3 separate regions of the Homo sapiens genome follow, and regions 1 and 3 are each linked to region 2. Evidence: fine-mapped expression QTL. A gene starts in region 2. Each other region holds a variant in brackets. All regions are shown on one strand. Distances are between the middles of the regions. Region 1 overlaps PHC2 (polyhomeotic homolog 2). Region 2 holds the start of A3GALT2 (alpha 1,3-galactosyltransferase 2). Region 3 overlaps TRIM62 (tripartite motif containing 62).

The links. PIP is the estimated chance that this variant, and not a neighbour inherited with it, causes the effect. A credible set is the group of variants that fine-mapping cannot tell apart.
Region 1: its variant is the best candidate, but not a certain one, in a credible set for the expression of A3GALT2 in whole blood (GTEx, PIP 0.66).
Region 3: its variant is the best candidate, but not a certain one, in a credible set for the expression of A3GALT2 in whole blood (INTERVAL, PIP 0.71).

What each region holds. Positions count from the first base shown.
Region 1 is chr1:33,356,946-33,361,945 of GRCh38, forward strand. All of the region lies in intron 7 of PHC2 (polyhomeotic homolog 2), which reads right to left. It overlaps PHC2-AS1 (PHC2 antisense RNA 1), which reads left to right. Exons shown (of 3, transcript NR_125978.1): 2 at 1,916-2,129. Among named protein-coding and RNA genes, the nearest start is that of PHC2-AS1, 9.1 kb to the left of the region's middle. The variant CTGAA/C (reference allele first, on the strand shown) is at 2,256.
Region 2 is chr1:33,317,219-33,323,971 of GRCh38, forward strand. A3GALT2 (alpha 1,3-galactosyltransferase 2) reads right to left here and starts at 3,880. Exons shown (of 5, transcript NM_001080438.1): 1 at 3,858-3,880. The coding sequence starts at 3,880. It overlaps PHC2 (polyhomeotic homolog 2), which reads right to left. Exons shown (of 15, transcript NM_001385109.1): 15 at 6,408-6,753.
Region 3 is chr1:33,160,797-33,167,549 of GRCh38, forward strand. It overlaps TRIM62 (tripartite motif containing 62), which reads right to left. Exons shown (of 5, transcript NM_018207.3): 2 at 4,675-4,770. It also overlaps a transcript of AZIN2 not described here and a transcript of ZNF362 not described here. Among named protein-coding and RNA genes, the nearest start is that of TRIM62, 18 kb to the right of the region's middle. RefSeq lists enhancers at 2,383-3,115, 3,116-3,848. The variant C/CTGTT (reference allele first, on the strand shown) is at 3,789.

The DNA.
Region 1 (5,000 bases), 39 kb after region 2:
GCGAAAATTCTTATATTTTTTAGTATCCCTTCAGTGTCTAGCTCATGCCTTGTTTGGAGTAGGGATTCAGGAAATTCAGCTCAGAGATTGTCTTTGCACAGATCACTCTCTGGCTAGTGCCAGGCCAGCCTAGGATGAAGCAGCTCAGCTGAATCTGTCCTGTTTAAAAACTGCCCTCCACAGAGACTTCCACGGCTGGAGAGCTAGCCAAGTGCATGGCAGGCCACAGCTGGAGGCCCGCAAATGGATTTTTACAACTAAAGCCTCATGCCAGTAAGGATAAAGGTGAATTCTGGGTCCTGAGCTCACGTTTTAAATGGATCCTGTGATGCAACAGGTGCAAAGTAAGCAGGTTTCAAACTGAGTTAGGGGAGGTGCCTTCCTTCTTGAATTTTGTCTGTTCACATGCAAGTTTTGAATGGTCTCATCCCAGCCCAACGTGAAATTCCAAGCAGAATTCCAATAGGAATGGAAAGGACAGAAATAAGATGTGTTACAAAGGAAAAGCAAAATGGTCCTTGGTGACTGACTGTCGTAGTCAGAGAGAGAGGGACTATGGATGGCCCAGAGGGGTTTAGTATGGATGATACTGAATGACAGGTTTGGGAAACTTGGACACCAGTGTGATGTTGAGGGAAGTGTGTTGGGTTTGGGTTGATGGCGGAACCTTTGTGGAAATGCCAGCAGACATTTGGTGATTATAAACTGACCCCAATCTAAGCTGTGTCTCCTTATCTCACATTGAATAGGTCGGAATTTAACAATCAGGCACTTTTGAGAAGACTGTTGATAAGGCACCTGGGAGACACTGAAGAGGCCACACAGGACTTTGTTAGGCCCCCACAGCCAAAATGATCTGCAAATGTTGGGCATGTCACTGCAAATGCAACCAAAACTTTTTCTCCTGTAATGCAAAATCATGGATTCCTGCTCCTGGGATGTGGAATCATTCTTAGGGGCTGCCTATGTGAGGTGGGAGCTGGAGATGGTTCCAGGTCAGGGAGGCTAAGAGGATCAATGGCATGCCCCACTACTTGCTGGCTGTGCGGCCTGAGACAAGGTACTCTTCTTTCTCAGGGCTTCAGAGTTTAATCTGTGAAAGAGGAGGTCTGGGCTAGGTGATCACATAAATCTCTTCCACATCTAGAATTTGATGGAGTGGCTATAGCAGAAAAGTAGTTTACAATTCAGGGTTAATAAGGAGGAAAAAGGATTACAGAGGGAAAAGGTTCTAAATCTCTACAGCATAAAGAGTATAGGTAGGGACAACACACATTTGTTTTCCCAAAAGACTGGGAAAGGGGACTGCTTGCCTGGCTTCTATTCCTGTGCTTCCTCTCCTATCCCATTCCCTCCCCACCCTGTGCTGCTCATGGAAAACTGAAAGCAATTGTTTTAGGACAAACGAGGCTACTATACACCAAGGCTGGAAATCAAGCTCATAAGGCTTGAATCAATTTATAGATCAGAGACCCAAAGGTATTTGGGGTATATATTAATACATCCTTAACTTTTTGAGGTTAATAAAAACAAAGATCATGATTTAACTCCAGCATTATCCTGGATCAAAAAAAAATCCTTTTGTTTCGAGTACTGCAGTAGAGGAAGGGTCTTCCTGATTCCAGTTTCTTCTCTCTGTAATCCAGCTTAGAGAGAGCAAACTAATCTTCCTAGTGCACAGATCTGATCTCTCACTAAAAACCGCCAGGGACTCTCCTTTGTCTACGGTTGTCTAAAGCCCCTGGCAGACATTCAGGATCTCTTTACAACATAAACCAACCTTTTAATTTTTATTATTTCTTTGACCCAAGCAATCTTTACTGTTCACTGTACCCTGTACAGAGTATATGCCTTTTCTCATACTGTCTAGAGTGCTACAAATCAAATTCTAGTCACCATTCTCTGGTCTTTACAGCTGACAGGACTTTCCCCTTTCTCTGAGATGACAATCAGGCCGCTTTGCTTTGCACTGCCCTCAGAGAAGCAGTGTGCCCAGAAGTCAAGTGTGAGCTCTTGAGTCAAAATGCTTGGATTTGAATTCCAACTCTGCTGCTTACCAGCTGTGTGACATGGGGTGAGTGAGTTACCTGACCTCTCTGTACCTCTATGTCATCATCTTTAAAATGGAGGTAAGGATGACACCTATCTCAGAGTTATTTCAGTAAGTGACTTATCTCTTTTAGTAGGCAGAATTTATGTGAGACATTTGTTTCCTCCAAAATATCTTGAATTTAGTAGATGCTCAATCAATATTG[CTGAA/C]TGAATGAATGAATGACAGACAACATGGTGGGACTTGTTTATCCTACAAGACTTGTTCTCAAGGCTTCAAATATGCAGGAAACGACTCACTGTCCCAGAAATGCTGGGACTCTTGCCGCAAAGTATATGGGAGCTGCAAGCATACCAGTTATAGTTACAGGACTACTTATGCACTCATTTTCCTAGAAGTCCACTATAGTTGACTAGAGTTTGATGTTACCTGGCCTACCAGCAAGGAGAATGTGCCTGTGGGAGAGGAATGGCAGATCTTTTTACTAGCCACTACCCTTAAGGGAAGATACACTTTCAACCATTCACTCACTCAACAAACAATTTATTAAGCACCCACCACACACCAAGTACTATGGTTGGTACTGGCTAAGACATGGTCCCTAGAAGAGATTACAGTTTAGTAAAAGAGATGGAAGACAGATACTCTCACCATAATTTGGTAAATATTATGATAGGTGATAAGCACAGAATATTGAGAACACGGAAAAGGGGATTCAGCTTTGGAAGGAGAGCAGAGAAGGTTTCCCAGAGCAAGTAAGTGTTTAACATGATTCAGAGTTAGGAAGATGACAAAAGGAACAGCATTCGGGAAGACTCAGAGGCATAAAATACTATGGTGAATTCAGGGATCTCCAGGGCATCATGTATAGTTGAAAGCCAAGGTGTCTAAGAGAGAGGAGTCAGAAAGGAGGCAGTTTTTGGCTGGGTCTAAGTTACGCTAGCACCTTCTAGGGGCTGCTTATCCCTAAAGATGTCTCATGTGATTAGGCTTCATGAGGTAACTAAGGTTAGAGTTAGCTCTAGAGGTCAGTGCTCTGCATACACAAGAATAGACAAGGAAGCTCCTTTTAGAAAACCCTAAAGCAATAGCCACACAAATTTTCCATGATGCATTCCCTTGGCATGGGGTCAGGAGGAGTTTGAGAGGGGAAGTAGAGCTAAGGGAAGTTTACCTGTAAGAAACTTGCAAAACGGTGTTGGGTTGCCAGCTGCAGGGGCACTCTATGATAGTCTGATTATGCTTGAAGGTTCTTAGGCCTGTTCTGCAGCCCTCTGGAAAAACTACCAAATACTTGCTGTGTACAGGATACTTTGCTAAGCAGCTTGGAGCATTATAAAAGAAAATGTTATCTGCATCTCTGCCCCTACCCTGCCCTTGGCAGAGGATGGCAGGATAGCATAAGTGGATAAACGCATGGGTTTTAGAGTCAGTCAGATCTGGGTTTAAATCTTGGCTCTGACACTGATAGGCTGTGCAATCTTAGATAAATTGCTCAACCTCTCTGTATCTTGACTTGCTGTTCTGTAAATGGTGACACATACCACATAGTTGTTAGTATCAAATGGACTATTTTGTTTAAACCACAAAGAGATTCACTGCCTTTGCTCAACACTTGGTACCTAGTAGATGCTCAGTAAATGGTAGCTATTCTTAAAATACTACCTGTTATCTGTGTGTTGCTTTGAACTTCTCAAAGAATTTTTATCATTTAAATCTAATTTATTTCTAACAAGAAGCCCATGAGGCAATTGAGAAGTGTTTTTATTTTACAAGCAAGAGCTGAGAGTAGTTTCCAAGTGACTTGTACAATGCAGTAAGTGAAGGGGAACTTGACTTCATTTGACAGGTGAGGCATGGTGCCTTGCATATTACAAGACGCTGATGGCCAAGTGAATAACACAAGTCAGTAAGGACAAAAAAGGTCAAAAATGCTGATGGCCAAGTGAATAACAGAAGTCAGTAAGGACGAGCGAGTACCGCAAGCCTAGGAGTATTAGTTGCAGGCAGTTGAGAATACTGGAGGCAATCTTGGAGGTATGGACAACAAAAAGGGATTGTTAACGCCAGGAGGCAGGGAGGAAAAGGGCATATGACAGGCCAAGAAAGTCACAAAGGGGTAGGAGTGGGAGAGAAGAGACAACAGCATATTTGCTTGGCCATAACAGAGCGTCTGCATGAGGACACCACGAGCAGTCAGGTGCAGTGGGCAGTGGGGGGAGGGTCTTTAAGGTCCCCCATGAAGTCAGATAGTCAGAAGTCATTAACATGATATTGAGTGAGCCCTTACTATAGACTAGGCATTCCAGCTGATCAAGGAGGACATAAAGACACAGTGAAGGTTTTTGTTTTTTGTTTTTTTGAGATGGAGTTTCGCTCTTGACGCCCAGGCTGTAGTGCAATGGCATGATCTCTGCTCACTGCAACCTCCGCCTCCTCGGTTCAAGCAATTCTCCTGCCTCAGCCTCCCAAGTAGCTAGGATTACAGGCATGAGCCACCACACCTGGCTAATTTTTGTAGTTTTAGTAGAGATGGGGTTTCACCATGTTGGCCAGGCTGGTGTCAAACTCCTGACCTCAAGTGATCCGCCTGTCTCGGGGCCTCCCAAAGGGCTGAGATTACAGGCGTGAGCCATCGTGCCTGGCCACAGTGAAGGTTTTTAAACAAGAAGGAAATAACAGTCTCTGAGGGAGATAATTCTAGCAGTTGTGAGTAGGATATCCTGGCGATCAGTTCAGCCTCATCCCGTCAGCAGGCCTTAAGCAAAGCAGGAAGCCAAAACAAGAGGAAGTCTCATCAGAACCTGGTGACAAACTGGTGATAAGCTGGGTGGTGATGGAGCGTGGGAATGAGGGAGGGCTTTCTCTGTGCCGGTCACTTGCACAGGCCATCTCAGTCATTTACAGCCCATAGGAAATATAATCACCTCTGTTTTACGGATGAGGAAAT
Region 2 (6,753 bases):
AGAAAAATGCTCATACAGGAACATGAAAGGAAAAAAGCAGGATCTAAAATTGAGGTGCACTCTGATTACAATTTAAGCAAGAATAAAAACGTGCATCAGAAAATAAGACTAAAAGGAAGAATGTGTTTGTGCAATAAAATTAGTTTCTTATTTTCTCCTCAATTTTCTGTAATGTATTTACAGTAGGTTGCTTTTTTAATGAAGGAAAAATTCAAAGTTAGCAATTTACACACAAAAAAATTGAAGTTATTTTGTGGTTTCCTGCTGAGTGCAGGACACCGTCCACATCTCTTAACCATGCCTGAGAAGCCTCCCAAGTCCAGCTCCTCCACTGTAACACTGTCAGTGCTCACAGCCCCTGGCCAGCTTGCCTGCAGCTAGGAATGGAGACTCTGCAGTGACTAGTCCCAGGATGTTCCCATAGCCTTCTCTGAAAAAGCAAACTAATGCAACAACCCCAGGGTTCATCAGTAGGGAACTGGATCAATGAATTAGGCATCTCTATACAGGTTGGGTATCCTTTATCCAAAAGTTTGGACCAAAAGTGTTTTGGATTTTGGACTTTTTTGGAGTTTTGAATATTTGCATTGTATTTACTGGCTAAGTATCCCTAATCTGGAAATCTGAAATTCAAAATGCTCCAGTGGGAGCATTTCCTTTGAATGTCCTGTCAGTGCTCAAAAAATTTCGGATTCTAGAGCGTTTTGGATTTCAGATTTTTGGATGAGGGGTGCTCAACTTGTATAATAGAAATCAACATGGCTATTGAAAAGGGTGAGGTAGATTTATATGTACTCTCTGGAAAACAGACCCTAATGTGTTAAGGTGAAAAGGAAGGAATAACTAATACGGAGAGGCAGACCTTGCTTCTGGCAGGGGGAAGCATCTGTGCCTGTGCACTCGAGCCTTTGCAGTCACGTATAGCCGCGTTCTTTCATGAGTGTAGGAAGAGATCTTGAATAGCATCATCCAGTGGAAGTATAGTGTGAGTCACATGTAATTTAAACATGTCTAGTAGCCACATTAAAACAGTGAAACAGGTATAAATTCGGATGTGCTGGTTTAAATAAAAATATTGTTACAAATAATTTAATGCCCCACATGCAGCCCATCAGCAAACCCTGGGGGTTCTCCCACTCACTCTCCTCCGTCCCCCTACTCACTCCTCCCCCATCCTGCCATTCACTCTCCCCTTCCTGTGTTCTCAGCGATTGATCCCAGTGACCCAAGTGGGACCCCTGCTTTCTCTCCCGACAGCCAAGTTGTTGCTTTTGCCTCCTTCCTAGTGCCCAAAACTCCCCTCCTGGCCTCCCTCACTGTCCTATCTGTGCCTCCTTGTTTCTCACTTGGATTCCTATAACAGCCTCCTGACCCTGCCTCCGAGTCTCCATCTTTTACCCTTCACTATGAAGTCTCCTAGGCTTCCCCACCTCTGTATTCTGTTCTGATTGCACTCTTCCTTCCATCAGCCAACAAGCTCCGCATCATTCCTCAGCACCCAGCTTCCTCCTGTCTGAAGCTGGCCTTGACATCTCCTCCGTTAGGTCCCTCCCCCAGGATGTGCCTCTGTCCCTTTCCCAGACCTCTCCTCCAGTACCTGCCAAGCGATGCTAGGGACTGTCTGCCTCACTCATTATGCCTCTGCCTCATAATTCATGCTATTGATAATTATTTGTTCAGCAAATGAATGAAACAACGAATGAGTTATTTGTGTTCATTCTCTCTTCCAAGTTGACTGGTACTCCTTTGCTTAAAACTCCATTTTCTTCAAGATTAAGTCTGCACTCCTTATGCATAATCCCAGACACTGAGACGGATACCTGGCCAAGTGTATTATGTGCCTGTCCTGTTAAAGGCACACCACAGCCCCTTGAAGGAGATGCTGTGCTTATGTCTACTTTATAAATGAGGAAACTGAGGCTTAGAAAGGTTAAATCACTTGCTTAGGGTTGCAGTTGCTCAGGGGAGAAAGCAGGGGTCCATTTGGGTCACTGGGATCAATCGCTGAGAACATAGAAGGAAAGATCAAGGAAATGCAAACTGCAGCTTGAGAAGCACTGAGTTGGGACACTCAGGTGAATACTGCTGTCCAGGGGACACACAATACCTCAGGGCAGCGCTCAGCAAGGGGGCTGGGCCAGGGTCACTGTGTGAGAGAGGATGCATGGAGGCTTGGAGCAGATCTCAGTGACAGCTCACCTCTGCAAGGCTGGGCGGCCTCATTGGTGTGAATCAGATGCACCACATCTTCTTTTAGGAGTAGGTTTGGTTCCCTCCCTCTTTGCTACACATATAACAAACTCAGGTGGGGCCTGGTTTTCATTTTCTTCCATAAAGGGAAAATTAAGGTCCAGAAAGTGAAAAGAACTGCCCAGAGTCCTATAGGCCAGTGGTGCACCTGCGCACGTGGCCTGCACTCCAGCAGCAGGAGAGGAGGCAGCACATGGGGCGTTCGTTCTTGCCTGGGGGCTCCCCACGGCTCACTCCCCAATCTCAGCATCCTCTCCTCCCCTGTCAGCTCAGGGTCCTGCCAGTCATTCCCTGCCTCCTGGGGCACCAGGCTTTCCAGTCCCTAGTTCTACCCCCTGGGGATCAACTAATCAGCTTGTTTCTCCTCCAATAAGTATCCGTGTTCTTTAGGTGAAAAGCCCCAACCTACTGCAGGTTTTCAGGGTGCACCTTCAGTAGGCATTTGCCATTCCTGTTTACACTTTACACCAAGGCATTTGCACGGCGGGTAATGGGTGGGGTTGGGCTTTGAGTAGGACTGCCCGATCCCCCAGCCAGAGCTTCCAGCATGGCATTTGGGTTCCATTTGACCTGGGCCTAGCTCAGCCCTGAGGCTCATCTCACAAGGTTCTCGGCCCTGTTATTTCTCCCCGTGGGCTTGGCTTCTTCCCTTCGCACTCTATTCAGCTCCTGTCTGAGCTCCTGGAGGGCTGGCTGCAGCTGGGCTTCTCTGGTTCCTAGAAGCCTGGTCAAACCCCGTACTGGGAGCTGGCAAGGCTGCCTCGGGAGGTGCACTGTGGGAGGTGTGCGAGGTACTGCGTAAGGTACTACAGGAGCAGGAAAAGGCTGGAGGGGCTTTCTCCCCCTCTGTGGCTGTCCCACCCTCTTCACCAGCCTCCTCCCAACCAGGGTAGGGCAAACCGATGCTTATTCTGGGCTCTGGGCCTCAGCCAGGGCACACAGGCAGAGTTGGTCTTGTGAACTCCTGTGGTCAGGCCTGGGAGGGTGCTGAGACCCAGGACTGGGTGGGACCCACCAGCTCCTCCTGCCCCTCCTATGCCCCAGCCTGGGAGCCCGTGGTCTGTGGAGGCCCCTGATCAGTCCACTCCTCCACATTTCTTGTTCAGGTTCTACCTGCAGAAGGTGGTCCCTCAAGCTCCACCCTGTGCCCTGCTCCCCACTCTCGTTGGCTTCAAGAAAGGGTTAAAGATCAGCCATTAGGTCTTAAGGGGGCACAGGTTCCTAGTCCTGGACCATCAGTCCCAGTGGGGATAGAGGGAGCTCTCAGTTACAGTCGGGGAGGGAATGTACCCCCGGGTCTCTGCTTTCCGGCTCGCCAAGGGGGTTTAGAGTTAAGGGAAGCAAGGGGAGTCCAGCTTTTCATTGGCTACAAAATCTTGTGGAATACAACCTCCCCCACCCCGGTGTCCATGCACACGGATTGTCTTTCTTCTCCTGGGGCAATGTCCCCTCTCGGAGCCACCTTTCCCCAGGACTGGAGGCTCAGCTGGTACTCCTGGGCTCACTCTGGTGCCTCCCCTTGGTACTGTTTTAGCCATCAGACTGGATCCCTCTTAGCTCAGCTGTCCCCAAGCTTTCTTCCTCTCCATACCATTGTCCCCCCTCACCTGAGTCCCTCCTTGAGAGCCATATGGGGAAGCAGGTAGGATGGCCTGGAGCAAACTTTCCCAGCTTAGAGCTGGGGAAGAAATGGCCTGCTCCTGGAGATCTGGAACAAGCAGCTCCTCCCCCTTTACCTGAGGAGCTGCACCCACAGGAGCAGTCAGGATGGACTGCCTGCGAGGGACCTGCCGGGGATGCAACCTTTTGGGGGAAGCTGGCCCCAAGGTGGAGTGGGGCTGGCAACCCTTTTGGGGCCAATCACCTGGAAGAGGGTGGGTCTGAGTAGGCCAGTTCTGGTTGGCTGGAGGCTCTGTCATTTTGTACAGACTCCTCTTCCCTCCCCAGGGGAAGTGTCTTTGGTTCTTGGGAACAGCTGGCAATCAAGGTATGGTGTTTGCCACGCAGGAAAAGCCGTTCTGCACAGAGCCTCAGCCAGATCTGAAGGGCACTCGGCACCTGTGACCTTGGACAGTTCACCTAGTGGAGCCCTTTACCTTCTCAGTAGAATGTACACCAGTACATACACCAGTCACCCAGGAGAGAGAACCATGTAAATTCGTGGATGTTGAACCGTTGTGATTTACTCTGGGCAGTGCTTTTTAAAGTTCCAGTTGTGACCTATCTGAAGGCCGTGTAATGAGTTTAGTGGGTCGTGACCAAGATTTTTAAAATACGAACAGGAATACAATGGAAAATATTCTATATTGTACGTAAGGGTAGGTTTTGTTTCATGAAATGTTTGTTTCAGTTGATAGATATTGAAATGTGTATACAAGTTTGGGAAATATTTCTTTAAATTGTGGATCATGATGGAAATAGGTCTGTGAAATTCAGTGTGAAGTGTAAACAACAGGAATAGCAAATGCCTATTGCAGGTGCACCCTGCAAACTTGCAGCAGGTTGGAGCTTTTCATCTAAAGAAGATGGATACTTATTGGTGTGAATCAAATTCACCACATCTTCTTTTAGGAGTAGGTTTGGTTCCCTCCCTCTTTGCTACACACAACAAACTCAGGTGGGGCCTGGTTTTCATTTTCTTCCATAAAGGGAAAATTAAGGTCCAGAAAGTGAAAAGAACTGCCCAGAGTCCTATAGGCCAGTGGTGCACCTGCGCACGTGGCCTGCACTCCAGCAGCAGGAGAGGCGGCAGCACATGGGGCGTTCGTTCTTGCCTGGGGGCTCCCCAGGGCTCACTCCCCAATCTCAGCATCCTCCTCCTCCCGTCAGCTCAGGGTCCTGCCAGCCATTCCCTGCCTCCTGGGACAGGCTTTCCAGTCCCTAGTTCTACCCCCTGGGGATCAACTAATCAGTGTGTTTCTCCTCCAAGACAGTTCCATTTTAATAGGCTTTCCAAAGAGGAGTTATTAAGATGTGAGTGTTGGTTCTTGAAAGTTACTTTCAAGTAAGTAATTGTCCTTTAGAGACTGTGATTCAGTAGGTTGTGGCCTGACCCTCAAACCACCCCCACCCCTGCTTTTTTTTTAAAAAAAAATAGGGTTTTTGTCTGTCACCTGGGTTGGGGGTGCAGTGGTGCAATCATAGCTCACTGCAGCCTTGAACTCTTGGGCTCAAGTGATCGACCTCAGCCTCCAGAATAGCTGGGATTACAGGTATGCACCACCTTGCCATTTTTTGGTATTTTTTTGTAGATATGGGGTCTCTCTATGTTGCCCAGGTTGGTCTCAAACTCCTGGCCTCAAGCAATCCTCCCACATCGGCCTCCCCAAAGTGCTGGGTTTACAGATGTGAGCAGCCATAACCTAAATTTTTAACAGGTAGAAATGGTCCCTTAGGGAAAAACCTGATGAAGGGGGAGGAGCAGTAAGGCCAAGCTGCCTCTTTTTCCCCTCCCCCCATAGATGTGGGGTAGATTTCACTCCACGCAAGAGGGCACATGGTTATTCTGTGCTTCACCCCAGTCTCATTTCTAGCACAGTGCCTGGTTCAGAGGCATGTGGTCAACACAGGTCACGGTTAGCAGCACACACGTCTAATCCAGCCAGCTCACCTGCCTCTCATTTGCACTTCCACGTTCATGCTTGTGCCTTTGCACTTATGCCTCGGTCTGGAATGCCCTTTCTCCTTCTTTATTCAAGGCTTAGATGCCTCATCTCTGCCCTAATCATTTTCTATTTGAGCATGCAAAAGTGCTCAGTGAACCAAAGCCATCCCAAGGCTATTCTGGATGCTGTGCAGCTCTATCGAGAGGTGTGTGCTGGAAGATGGGAGAGTCTGGGTTCTGCCCCAGGTGTCCAGAGGCTGCTAGCCCAACAGTCATCATCTCCCAAGTGGGAATGGCGGGTAGGGGGGCGCAGAGCAGAAAGGGCTTCTGGACCCTCTCACTCCAAGGGACACCGTGTGAAGAAAGCTGGTATCTACCGTGTGAACTGCAGCTGAGGGCACCCTCAAATGACCCAGCTCCAGAAAAGTGTGGAGGATATGCCATCCACTTAAGGTCCCTTCCCCAGCCCAGGGACCCACCTGTCTGTATGGGTGAAAAGTAGCCATTTGGGCCCAGAGACAGGCATTCCTAGGGGAGAAAGGCACCAAAGAGACAGATTTTACAGATTTATTTTTAAAAAACAAAACAAAGGTTAAAAAAGTCCTTCATTTCCAACCCTGCCTGGGGGTGTGGGTGGGGAATAGAATAAGCTCAGAAAGGTGCCTACCTCCTTCCTGCAAAGGACACGGCAGGTCAGAGGCAGGCCCTCGCCCTTTCTGCCCTGCCTCCTCCTCAGGTAGCTCAAATTGCTGCTAGGAAGATTTATAGGCAAAGAAGTGTGGGAGTGGGAGGCCAAGAGCTGCCTTCTTCACATCAACAGAAACTCCAGCTGTTCTTTCCCCTTAGCAGTTCTCTGAGCCTCACCACTGGGACTCCCAGGGTGGGCGGGCAGGCAGGCC
Region 3 (6,753 bases), 160 kb before region 2:
TTGCAACGTATTGAGAAAACCTTGGTGGTTACTCGCTGTCTCCTGTTACCTCTAGGACCCTCTGGCTAAGGAGCAAGGACTGGTGTTTATAGACAGGATCAGGGAGGTAAGCATGAACTTTCATGGTTTTCTCTGCCCCCAAGGGCACTGTGAGGCTCAGGAAGGGTGAAGTAGTGAAGGGCACAGGTTTGGTGCCTGACAGTCTGCGTAAGGACTCTAGCTCTGGGTCTCTAGCTATGGCAACGTCAGTTGCCTAAGAGCTGTGAACCTTAGTTTTCTTATCTGTGAAAGGAGTAACAAAAACTGCATTGTAGGATTGTGGTGAAGATGAAATGAGGGGGTGTTGTTGTGCGCACTCCAAGGCGCAGAGAAAGAGCCTGGTTATTGAAGACTGCAATTCTAATAAGCGTTTCCCGGAAGTCTTCATTGAGAGACGGGTTCTGAGCCGGGGCCTGAGGGATGGGCAGGATGTCAGTTGGGGGTCAGGGGAACAGGCAGAGGGAGCCGCATGAGGAAGGGCTTAACGTCAGGACGACACGGGCTATAGAAGTGCGGCCAGGCTGCAGCAGCATGTGGGGCCTGCCTCTGCAATTTTACTTTGTGGGATTCTGGCTGGGAGTTCATGGAGTCAGAAACCCCACTGTGTTCAGTGCCCAGGGCTCTGTGGGAGGCTCTACAAAGGCTCAATTAGGGCCTGTTCCCTCCCCGACGCGCGGCTGCTGGCCTGCAGGAAGAACTGCTGGCGGTGGGCCAGCCTCGCTGCGCATGCCCACCCAGAACGCCAGGCAGACAAAGGGGGGCGGACGAGAGTCTGGGGATGCACGGCCAGGCTGCCGTGGCCTTCCTGAGCCCCCTCACCCGGGGAGGGTGGAGGCCTCTGCAGCGGCATGTTGCTGATGGGGAAGATGGGGTCCGTCGTCCCTGCACCACCTGGAGCTGCCCTCCACAGGCGCCCAGACTCCGCAGCTACTCCTCTGGCTCCTCCTAGACCACTCTGCAGCACTTAGCCCACTCGCCACCCTCTCCTAGTTGAAAGTTCTGCTTTGCCTCCCATCTCTGTGACTGCTGCCTCTCTGCCTCCCATGTTCCTCGGGGCTCATCCAGGTCAGCGCCTTCCATCCTCACCCTGAACACCTGCCCCCATTTTCAACTTGAACTGCTTTAAGGATGGTTCCCAAGTCCATATAGATGGCCTTGCCTGTCTCCTGAGTGCCACACCCATTTTTCCAACAGTCTCCCCAACACATCCCTCTGGGGTCCCACAGGTCTTTCCAACTCACTTGGTCTACAAGTCAACTCTTGTCTTTGCCAGCAAACTCACTGTCAGAGTGATCCTTCTAAAGTGCCAACTGAATCACAGATGATCCTGAGTTTAGGAACCTTCTTTAGCTCCTTGACACATAGTAAAATGCTGAACTCTTTAGTCTGGCATTCAAGGACCTTCTCAATTTAACCCTAGCTTACCTCCCTAGCGCCACTGCATTGCAACTCCACCTGCCTAGAATGACCCTACCCAAACCCTGTATTCAACTGGCAAACTCCTACTCATCCTGCAAGACCTAGCTTGAAAGTGACCTCTTCAGAGATAACTTTCCTCTCTTTCAGGCACTTGGATGTTCCCAGAGCCTTTTGTCAACAGTCTTAATACATTGTCCCACATTTTCTGTCTCCCTGGCTAGTAAGTGGGCCCCTGCTGGGTAGGAATGACATCTCCCTCGGCTCTGCACCCCTGTGCCCATCCCAGAGCCTGGTACAAGGCTGGCAATCAGGAGTTGCTTGAGGGGTGAAGGAGGGAAGAGTCTTGTCTGAGATTGCTCCGTAGAGCTGGGTGCAGGCTCCAGCTTCTTTCCAGGCTGGGGTTTCAATGTCTCAAGGACGAGAGAGGATGGGAGGGAAAGGGGGGAAGGCAGGGACAGGGCAGCCAGCAGTGGAACATCAGAGTGACAGCCACCCCTGGAGCCCCAAGTACATTCCCGATGAGTCCTACTGACCTACCTGGCTTGCTGACTACAAAGCCATAGCTCTTGCAGGACACCCCAGGAGACATCCCAGCTGCACTATGCACTGGGCTCTGACAGGACTGGATGGTAAGCTCCCAAGTTGCCATTTTCTAGCTGTGGGACTTCAGGTTGGTCCCTCAACCTCTCTGTGCCTCAGTTGCCTCACTGATAAGATTGAGATAACAACAGTTCCTACCTGGGACGATTTTTTTTCTTTCCTGTTTTTTTGGTTTTTGTTTTTGTTGTTTTTTATTTTTTTGAGATGGAGTCTCACTCTTGTTGCCCAGGCTGGGGTGCAGTGGCTCGATATTGGCTCACTACAACCTCCACCTCCTGGGTTCAAGCAATTCTCCTGCCTCAGCCTCTTGAGTAGCTGGGATTACAGGCACCCACCACCATGCCCAGCTAGTTTTTGTATTTTTAGTAGAGACGGGGTTTCACCATATTGGCCAGGCTGGTCTTGAACTCCTGACCTCAGGTGATCCGCCCGCCTCAGCCTCCCAAAGTGCTAGGATTACAGGCGTGAGCCACTGTGCCTGGCCGATTTTTTTTTCCTTTCAATCACTTTTTTTATAACTACTTATTGTGTGCCAGACACTGTGCTAGGTTTTAGGGAATCCTGCTCTCGTGGAGGTGACATTCTGTGAGGTTGGCAGGATAATGAAGAGGAACACAATTCTCAGCACAGAGAAAAGTTCTGCTCAACTGGTGCACCCCATTTATTCTAGTTCTTTCCAGGGCAGAGTCACCCTTTCCCCAACCCCCTCCTTTCAGCTCTGTGGCTGGGGAAACAGCCCCCACCCCAACCCACCACATCCCTTGGAACACCCTAGGGCCTGGAGGTGCTGGGGCCCTTTCAGAAAAACACCCTGCCAAGAATGCATCACCCCGCCAGGGCGCCGACCAAGGAAAACAGAGGGCCTGAGGAGGGAGATCAGACAGGCCCTCAGGCCAGGCCATTGGAGGGGCAGGCGCAGCAGGAAAGCCGAGTCAGGCACCAGGTGAAATATGACCTCCAAAGCATCCATAGGCATTTCTTGTATAAACACCCCAGTCCAGACAGGAAGTGGGGCTGGGGGAACTCGAGGGGGATGTGGCCCCACAGGACCCCCCAGAGGCAGACAGATGGACAGGAAAGCGGGGGAGGAAGAGGTCAGTGGAGAAAAACAAAGAGGGTGTGGGATGTGGAGAGAAGAGAGTGCTGCTGGGGAGAAGGAACAGCCCATAATACTCCGCTCTCATACAGAGAGAGGCTTCCATTTGCTTCTCATCATCCAAGAGGTACAGAATCACCAGACAGTTGGGGAAACTGAGGCTGCAAGAAGCAATGAGGCCAGCATCCTGTGACTGTTTATCATCTGTTGCCCCCGAGGGTCCTGCCCAGAGGCACTCTGGAATGTTCTGTGAAGAATTGTTTGTCATGACCTTCCTGAGACCCCACAGTGGGTTGGTGGCCAAGCTGGGGCATAGATCTGGGTTTCCAATGGTGTCTTCAGGCCCCAGGATGACCTCCAGAGGCCCAGCGCATTCCTAAGGCTCTGCCGCAGCTCCTGCTGACAGAGCGGGGTCAGCCTGAAATCACCCCAGGCCTCACGACACAGAGTCACTCTGTATAGTGGGGACTCCACCCGGCACCTTCCAGTCCCAGAGTGCTGGACTGAGCCTGGCAGTCCCCACTGGACAGATGGGAAGGCTGGGGACCCAGGAAAGCATGCAATTTACCCAAAGTCACACAGTGAGTTAGTGGTGGGATCAGAACCCATGTCCTTCTCAAGTCAGTGGAAAAGT[C/CTGTT]TGTTTGTTTGTTTGTTTGTTTGTTTCCCAAACCACGGTAGCCAGAGACTGCAGAGTTTGGCCCTACCTTTCAGAGTCTGTATCCCATGGCCTGAGCTTAAGGGGAGATGATACCAGGGCTGGGCCACCTCTGGAGGGCTTCGAGGGGACATGCTCAGGATTGACTCCTAGGCAATGGGCTTATTCATTCATTCATTCATTCATTCATTTTAGAGACAGGGTATCACTCTGTCACCCAGGCTGGAGTGCAGTGGCATGATCATGGCCTACTGCAGCCTCAAACTCCTGGGCTCAGGCAATCTTCCCATCTGTCTCAGTCTCCAGAGTAGCTGGGACTACAGGCATGTGCCACTACGCCTGGCTATATTCAATTTTTTTTTTTTTTTTTGTAGAGAAGGCATCTCGTTATATTGGCCAGGCTGGTCTCAAACTCCTGGGCTCAAGCCATCATCTTGCCTCGGCCTCTGAAGAGACTGGGACTACAAGTGTGTGTCACAACACCAGGGTTGGGCGGTTTTAATAAGGGGAGAGGAGAAAGAGACTGAGCACATTCCCCAGCCCTTCAGGAGGCAGGGGGTTTCCGGAGGGTCCCGGGACCCGCCTCAACTTCCACCCAAAGTGGGAAGGGAGAAATGGCCCCGTCCTTAACCGAGGGACCAGCCCACATCCTTGCCGCCAGTCATGATGGGGTGGGTGCCGCCCCATTGAACTTCACGGATGCCCTACCCTCTTCCCCACCCTGCCCTTCTCACTCCAGGTTTGGCTCCTTGAAGCCAGGTTTCCACCGCACACCCGAGGCCCCGCCCCTCTTCCCCAGCTGGCCCCGCCCCTCGAAGCCCTGCCCTCATCTCTGCCGGCCCCACCTCCGCGCCCCGGCCAGGCTCACCTTGGTCTCCGCCAGTTGTCGCTTGAGCAGCTGCAGCGCTTCGGTGTGTTCCCGCTCGCTGTCTTGAAGGGCCTGAAGTTGGTCCTTCAGCTCCCTCTGAAACACACACAGGGCCGGGATGGGGGCAGGGGCCATGCCTGGCCCAGGCATTCAGCCCTGACCACTGCCAGGCGCTGGGGGTTAGCCTGGTCTCTGTCCCCAACCTCCAACACTTGCCTCCCGTCACAGTTCAACCACCAGCAAGTCCTGTAGAGTCTGTCTCCTAAACACCTCCAGAACCCGTCCGTATCTTTCACCTGCATCTTTGCAACAACCTCCTCCTCTTTGGCCACCCTAGAGGCTTCTGTGACAATCGACTTCCACATACACACTCTCTGGCTCCCCACACTTGGCCCTGGATCCCCGCTTAGAATTAAGGCAGGGGTCTCCAACCCCCAGGCCACAGGTGGGTATTGGTCCATAGCTTGTTAGGAACCTGGACGCACAGCAGGAGATGAACAGTGGTGGGGAGGGGCAAACCATCTGTATTTGCAGCCGCTCCTCATCGCTGGCATTACCACCTGACTCCACCTCCTGTTGGATCAGTGGTGGCATTAGATTCTCACAGGAGTGTGAACTGCACATGGGAGGGATCTAGGTTGCCTGCTCCTTATGAGAATCTAATGCCTGATGATCACTCACTGTCTTCCATCACCCCCAGATGGGACTGTCTAGCTGCGGAAAAACAAGCTCAGGGCTCCCACTGATCCTACATCATGTTGAGTTGTGTAATTATTCCATTATATATTACAATGAAATAATAATAGAAATAAAGTGCACAATAAATGTAATGTGCTTGAATCATCCTGAAACCATCACCCCACCCCCACCCCCTGCGGTTTGTGGAAAAATTGTCTTCCATGAAGCTGGTCCCTGGTGCTAAAAAGGTTGGGGACCACTGCTCTAAGGAACCAAAGCTGTACCAGTCCAATGCTACAGACTAGCTGCCAACATTCTCCGAGGGCTACAGTGGGCTGGGCACAGTTCTTAGCTCTTTGCTTATATTAAATCATTTGGGCCTCTCAGTAACCCTAAGGGAGGCACAATTATTATCTCCATCTTCTGATGGAGAAAAAGATACAGAGAGGTCAAGAAACTGGCCCCATAGCATACAGATAAACATATAATGGTAAAGAAGGAATTGGAACCCGGACAGCCTGGTTGTGGAGACCATGATCTTGATGCCAGGTGACACGTTTTCTACCATGATGACTCCTGCGATGAATAACAACAAATCCACAACACACAAGATATCAAAATTTTAAATAAAAACACAATCAGCCTCACTGATTTTTCCTTTGTCTCAGGTTCCAGTGTGGCTCAGCAGAGCATTGTTAGTGATCCTGGCCTTGTTTGAAATGTTGAATTTTGTTCATCGTGGGTTTTTTGCATTAATTTTGATTTAAGAAATATTGCATTAAATACTATTCATCTTGATTGCTGAGTTTGGGGCACCCTCTGATCCCACCTCTGTCTCCAACACCCTCCCCCATCACTCCCATCCAGCCAGTGGCCTTCTTCCTGTGCCTCCACCATCTTGAGCTCGTTCCAATCTTCAGACTATGCCCTGGCTATTCCCTCTGGCTGGTGGCCTCCACTCTCAGAGTTTCTCACGGTGACTCCTTTGTACCATTAATTTAACTCAGATGCCACCTCCTTGAAGAGTCTTGCCTGACCGCCCCACGCACAGTGGCACCTCCTCATACCCTGTCACACATCTGGATTCACGGTCTTCCTTGCGCCTTCTGCTGTCTGAATATATTTGACTGTGTGTTTATTGCTTATCTCCTCACTAGAATGTGAGTTTCATGAGAGTAGTAGGAATCTTGTCTGGCTTGTTCCCTGCCTTATGCCCAGGGACTCAGTGATTATTTGTCAAGTGATAAATGGGTTGTGGAGGTGAGTGCTCCCTAGCACAGGGTCCAGCTGTCTGCAGGCATTGGGAATCTAGCCCATTGTATTATCGCCAGTTGTTCTCCTGTCTGTCTCTTCTTCGTCCCCGTATTGGCCCACAAGTCCTCCAGGGTGGCTCCTACTGCT